Homo sapiens: one gene and its partner. The protein of the gene in region 1 purifies or fractionates together with the protein of each later gene. This does not show direct contact. Each region holds a gene or a part of one and is shown in the gene's direction. Other genes may lie near its edges.

The links. Proteins that work in one complex are often made in the same cells at the same time.
Region 2: the proteins of ESRRA (region 1) and WDR36 fractionate together in Homo sapiens (co-fractionation; one large-scale study listed by BioGRID). This does not show direct contact.

Annotation. Positions count from the first base shown.
Region 1 is NC_000011.10:64,308,524-64,312,023, forward strand, and holds part of ESRRA (steroid hormone receptor ERR1), read left to right. Parts: intron 1-3,500. UniProt on the Homo sapiens protein: Binds to an ERR-alpha response element (ERRE) containing a single consensus half-site, 5'-TNAAGGTCA-3'. Can bind to the medium-chain acyl coenzyme A dehydrogenase (MCAD) response element NRRE-1 and may act as an important regulator of MCAD promoter.
Region 2 is NC_000005.10:111,109,348-111,112,847, forward strand, and holds part of WDR36 (WD repeat-containing protein 36), read left to right. Parts: intron 1-841; coding exon 842-956; intron 957-1,440; coding exon 1,441-1,606; intron 1,607-1,822; coding exon 1,823-1,931; intron 1,932-3,500. UniProt on the Homo sapiens protein: Part of the small subunit (SSU) processome, first precursor of the small eukaryotic ribosomal subunit.

The DNA of each region.
Region 1 (3,500 bases):
AAAAAAAAAAAAAAAGGCCGGGCACTGTGGCTCATGTAATCCCAGCACTTTGGGAGGCCGAGGCGGGCGGATCATGAGGTCAGGAGATTGAGAACATCCTGGCTAACACGGTGAAACACTGTCTCTACTAAAAATACAAAAAATTAGCTGGGCATGGTGGCGGGCGCCTGTAATCCCAGCTACTTGGGAGGCTGAGGCAGGAGAATGGCGTGAACCCAGGAGGCGGAGGTTGCAGTGAGCCAAGATCACGCCACTGCACTCCAGCCTGGGCGACAGAGTGAGACTCCGTCTCAAAAAAAAAAAAAAAAAGGCTGGGCGCGGTGGCTCATGCCTGTAATCCCAGCACTTTGGGAGGCCGAGACGGGCGGATCACCTGAGGTCAGGAGTTTGAGACCAGCCTGACCAATGTGATGAAACCCCGTCTCTACTGAAAATACAAAAATTAGCCAAGCATGGTGGCATGCGCCTGTCATCCCACTCAAGAGGCTGAGACAGGAGAATTGCTTGAACCTGGGAGGCAGAGGTTGCAATGAGCCCAGATCGCGCCATTGCACTCTAGCCTGCGCAACAAAAGTGAAACTCCACCTCAAAAAACAAAAACAAAAACAAAAACAAAAAAACCCAAAAACGCTGGGCTTGGTGGCTCATGGCCTGTAATCCCAGCACTTTGGGAGGCTGAGGCAGACGGATCACGAGGTCAGGAGTTCGAGACCAGCCTGGCCAACATGGTAAAACCCCGTCTCTACTAAAAATACAAAAATTAGCCGGGCGTGGTGGTGAGTGCCTGTAATCCCACTACTTGGGAGGCTGAGGCAGGAGAATTGCTTGAACCCGGGAGGCAGAGGTTGCAGTGAGCTGAGATCATGCCACAGCACTCTAGTCTGGGCAACAGAATGAGACACTCTCATCTCAAAAAAAAAAAAAAAAGGACTTACAGGCATGTCTGCTCTTAAAAGTCACTAATTTTTTTCTCACTCAGGAAAGCTTATCAGAATTTGGGGGAATGAGCAAGATGCTGACATTAAGCATTGCCTGGGAAGGGCCTATTATTTCCGTTATTTCTGCTTTTATGTAACCATTGGTTACTTTGGGGGCTATAACACGTATAATTAAAAAAAAAAAAAAAAAGGCCAAGTGTGGTGGCTCACACCTGTAATCTCAGCACTTTCGGAGGCTAAGATGGGAGGATCACAAGGTCAGGAGTTCGAGACCAGCCTGGCCAACATGGTGAAACCCTGTCTGTACTAGAAATACAAAAATTAGCCAGGTGTCGTGGTGGGTGCCTGTAGTCCCAGCTACTCAGGAGGCTGAGGCAGGAGAATTGCTGGAACCCAGGAGGCAGAGGTTGGAGTTAGCCAAGATCGTGCCACTGCACTCCCAGCCTGGGTGACAGAGTGAGAGTTCGTATCAAAAAAAAAAAAAAAAAAAAAATCTTGAGTGCTTACCTTGTGCTAGGCACTGTATTCTTTTATGATCTCAGTTAGTCCCCACAGCAACCCTATAAGGTGTCAGTACTGTTATAACTGAAACTAAGAGAGGCATTTGAAACTTTGTTGAAGTCTCACAACTAGGAAATGGCAGAACCAAGATTTGAACTTGGGTCAGTATAGGTCCAGAGCTGAGCTCTTCAATGTTAGACTGCTTCCTCTGCTTATTACTAATAACACCGAACTTTGGACAGACGCTGAATGACTGATTGTGACATTCCAGCACGTTTTTTTTTTTTTTTTTGAGACAGTCTCGTGTGGTCGCCCAGGCTGGAGTGCAGTGGCACGATCTCGGCTCACTGCAAGCTCCGCCTCCCGGGTTCACACCATTCTCCTGCCTCAGCCTCCTGAGTAGCTGGGACTACAGGTGCCCGCCACCACGCCTGGCTAATTTTTTGTACTTTTAGTAGAGACGGGGTTTCAGCGTGTTAGCCAAGATGGTCTTGATTTCCTGACCTCGAGATCCACCTGCCTTGGACTCCCAAAGTGCTGGGATTACAGGCGTGAGCCACTGCTCCTGGCCAGGTTTTTTTTTTTTTTTTTTTTTTTTTTGAGATGGAGTTTTGCTCTTGTTGTCCAGGCTGGAGTGCAACGGCCTGCAGTCGTGGTTCACTGCAACCTCTGCCTCCCGGGTTCAAGCCATTCACCTGCCTCAGCCTCCCAAGTAGCTGGGATTACAGGCGCCTGCCACCATGCCCGGCTAATTTTTGTGTTTTTAGTAGGGATGGGGTTTCACCATGTTGGCCAGGCTGGCCTCAAACTCCTGACCTCAGGCGATCTGCCCTCCTCGGGCTTCCAAAGTGCTGGGATTATAGGTGTGAGCCACTGCACCCCGCCAATCCAGCAAGTTTTAACTTGGCCAAAATCCACCAATCTTAAACTTTGTGCACCCTTCCCACTCTGAAGAACAGTGAGCCAGCCGGCCAGGGTGCGGGTATCTCCTACCTACCCTGGGGCCCCTCACTGTATGTTGACTATTGACAAATATTTATTGTGTGCTGGCTGTGAATAGGACTTGTATATTGAGCACTTAGGTGTCATGAACCATGCTGGATGTTTTGACCATATTATCCCCTTTAATTCTCACGACCCAACTCTGTGGGGCACTTTTACAGCTGGGAAACTGAGGGTTCAAGGGGTTAGGTATGGGACTTGCCCAAGGTCATAAAGGTATGTGGTAGCCAGAGTCCCTGTTCGGCACAGACCTGTTCTTTGCTGTCCTGGCCAGTGTTCCAGGCCTTGGGGACATAGCTGGGGCTGAAGCAGGGCTGTTTCTGCCCTCAGGCAGTTTACATCCTGGCAGAGGGGAGAGCTGGGCAACAGTGAGTTGCACAGACTTGTCTTATTACCGCTGTGGTATGTGCAGGAAGGGGAGGTGCTGGTTCTGAGGCTCCAGAGGGCTTGTCTTTTTTTTTTTTTTTTTGAGACGGAGTCTCGCTTTGTTGCCCAGGCTAGAGTCCAGTGGCGCGATCTCGGCTCAGTGCAAGCTCCGCCTCCCGGGTTCAAGCGATTCTCCTGCCTCAGCCTCCCCAATAGCTGGGATTACAGGCGCATGGCACCACGCACGGCTAATTTTGGTATTTTTAGTAGAGACTGGGTTTCACCATGTTAGCCAGGATGGTCTCGATCTCCTGACCTCGTGATCCACCCGCCTCGGCCTCCCAAAGTGCTGGGATTACGCTCCCGGCCTCTTTTTTTTTTTAGACAGAGTCTCACTCTGTTGCCAGGCTATAGTACAGTGGCACGATCTCAGCTTACTGCAACCTCCGCCTCCCAGGTTCAAGCGATTGTTCTCCCTCAGCCTCCCGAGTAGCTGGGACTACAGGCACACGCCCAGCTAATTTTTGTATTTTTAGTAGAGACAGGGTTTCACCGTGTTGGTCAGGCTGGTCTCAAACTCCTCACCTCGTGATCTGCCTGCCTCGGCCTCCCAAAGTGCTGGGATTATAGGCGTGAGCCACTGCGCCTGGCCTTTTTTTTTTTTTGGTACAGAGTTTCGCTCTGGTTGCCCAG
Region 2 (3,500 bases), on another chromosome or scaffold:
TTATCTAGAAAAATGTATGTATGTAAAACATATTTATGTGATGCAATGTAAATATGTCGTGACAAAGTGGTATGTCAAACTTTATGTTGCTTTGCTTAGTTAAATAAACCTTCATTAAATACTTTCTACTTAGTTTGTATAAGTCATCTGTTTAGATGTAAATTGAATTATCTCTTGGTGGATGACATCTGACTGACACACATTGGCAATCAGTTATTTCTCCAGCAGTGACCAAATATGTAGCCAGTCTCATGTTTTCAGTATAGAAAAAATATATTGACATAATATTGATATTTTAAGTATTAAAATGAGATTATATTATAGAACCTGCTTATAAACCAAATGTTTTCTCTGTAGTGTCTTATATATTTCCTTCCTAATATGTCATAATTAAAATATTTTGGGCTTTTGCTTGGCCATTCTAACTAATGGTATGTTTTTGGTTTTATGTCAGCTGTGGAAGCAGTTACAAAAGGCAAGACAAAAAGAAATTAGGCGATGGAATGTTTTAACTTTGGCTTTGTTAATAAATTAAAAATTGAAGGCTAGTCCCATATATAGTTCTCTTGACTTTGTACATTTAAATTGAGTTAACCTTAGTTATGTTTTGTTTTCTTAGATAGTAATTCTTCATACTTTTTAAAGAATGGAGATAGAATCTAGCATATATTCTTATACACCCAAATATAATTACTTTATGTTAAAAAAACTAATGAAGCAATTCATTTATTGTTCTTTTGTTAAATAAAAAGGAACAAGTAGATAAAAAAATGCTTTGGAAAGCATAAAGTGCAATAAAAATGTTAGTTATTTTGTCATTTGTGGGTTTTTTTTCTTAAAGGCAGTGGATATAACTTCTTGTGGAAACTTTGCTGTAATTGGCCTCTCATCAGGAACTGTAGATGTATATAACATGCAGTCTGGCATACATCGAGGAAGTTTTGGCAAGGATCAAGGTAGAGAATTTTTTTCCTTGTTTTTTATTAATGTAGATAGATACAAAACTAGTAGTGAAAGCTGGTATGTATAATCTTTAAGTGCTGGGCATTTTGCTAAAGTTGAAGATGGGTTATAATCAACCCTATATGGCAGATACTGCAATTGTATCATAAGGACCATGTTGAAAGAGAAAAGTCATGGGTACTTAAAGAGTTACGTGGATATTATACAGATTAATTTTTTTTCTTCTCTCCTTTAAGCAGAAAATCTTAACAAACTTTTCAAACCTATGTTGTATCGATCTGATTTCTGTTTTTTTACTCGAACAGTATTAATAATTAAGAATCTTCTTACACCCCTAAAATCCAGATTAATTTCAAGATTTTAAAGGATATTTAAGTGGCACCTTACATATTTGAATGAAGGAATCACTGTGTGTATTGTTCAGAGAGAAACACTGCCAATTCTGATTTTTTTTTTCTTTTGACATCTACCTTACAGCTCACAAGGGATCTGTTAGAGGTGTCGCAGTGGATGGATTAAACCAGTTGACAGTTACAACTGGTAGTGAAGGATTACTCAAATTCTGGAACTTTAAAAACAAAATTTTAATCCATTCTGTGAGCCTCAGTTCATCTCCAAATATCATGTTGCTACATAGGGACAGGTAAACTTTTAATGATAATGGATTTTCTCTTTGATTCTTTTGGTAAAAGTCATAAAGTCACAATTTACCAAGTGGGAAAAATCAGACTCTTTAATAAAGAACAACATTTGGCTTAATTTCCCCCAAAGTGTACTTGATTTAACAAAATTCAAGTGGAGGTGAGATTTTAGTTCAAGGGTTTTTTGTTTATTAAAACTGGTGCATTTATCTTGCTAGTGGCATTCTGGGACTCGCCTTGGATGACTTCTCCATTAGTGTTCTGGACATAGAAACTAGGAAGATTGTCAGAGAGTTTTCTGGACACCAAGGCCAAATAAATGACATGGTAAAACAAACTCTAACTAATAAAACTTGACTCATTTCTACTTTTGTTTGGGTGTGTTATCCTTTAATAGCCTTAAAATCATTATATGAGGTGGTTATCAATTTTAATTTGCAGGCTATTTTTCAAAGATTTTAAAGGAAAATTTTGAATTAAAAGTTTAATATTTTTCAGGGAGTTGATGCGATCAAATTAAAGTATAAGTTTTAGAACTCATCTTTTTTTTCATTAACTCTAAACAAGGCCAAAGTATACTTTAGAGAATGAATGATCCATTGGTATATATGTCATTCTTAACTTAATATTAAAATAGGCTGGGAGAACTCATTTCTGATTTACTATGTATGGAATGAATTAATAGTAGAAGACCATTTCCCTGGAATATCTGGTATCTGGTTTATTTTAGTTTAGTGCTATTTCTAGAGTTTACATATCTTAACTCTGAAAGGGTTTAATTAATAAAAATGTGCTTAAGTTTACTATTATGTTCTTATAATGGGATATATGATATGGAAAGAAGTAAACTAGTTTAAATAGCATATTTCATTAAAAAGAACTTTTAAAATAAATTTGTCACTTGAGGACCATATTAAGTGTATATTATCATCTTTCATCAATTGCAGATACCTTGATTTGCTTGAAAATAGAAAAAGTAAAATAAAAATAAAATCTTAATACTTAGTGACGAACCCAACAGCTGCATTTACTAGTTCTCACACCAAAAATCAGAATTTACTCCTTTCCTTCAAAATTGAAGAAAAAAAACATGGTCAGGACATTGTGTTCTGCAGATAGGAGGCTGGCAAAATTATACATCAGCAGAATTTGTTTTGACAGCATCTGTAGAAATGAGGGTGGGATTGGGTTAATTGTGCTGAAATGGCACTTTTGAAAACATCTGTCAGTGTCAAGTTGCTCTTCCTATTTCTTTTTCAAACCTTACTTTCAACTTGTATATCTCGAGTTTCCCTGCTCAGTAATAAGTTATTCCGGTTAGTCAAATCTGTGAGCATTTATAACATGACTTTACCTCTCAGAATCATTCTTTCCCATCCTTTACTATCTGTACCACCCTTCTGTAAATTGATCTATCTATAACTTGAGATTTGAGTTCCCATTGTATTACTGCAGCCTGAGGAACAAATCAACATTTACGTATCCCAGTATCATCTACTAATTTAAACTGATGGATGAACAGTCTACTACAACTGTAAACTTTAAAGTTTTTCCTTTTGGGTCATCTTTCACCTGTGATCTGGTTTGTGCCTCACAACCCTTAGGTACTACAGGCAGAGAGATCTATTATTTATCCATTTTCATAGCTAGAAAAAATAATGGGTGGCATAAGTAGTTTATTTAAATTTATTTTGAAAATCTGATTATTATAGTTTGTTTAGAAATAAAGCATTATTAAAAGAGAAAAGATTTTTAACTTAAGCTTCAAGAAAAGTAAGCCCTTATCACACACATAAACATTGTCTATAAATAAATAGAAGATTGTGATTTGAAAATTAATGCAGTACACTTTTTTAACTTTTAATAATTCATTTAAAAGTCTAATCTTTATCCAGA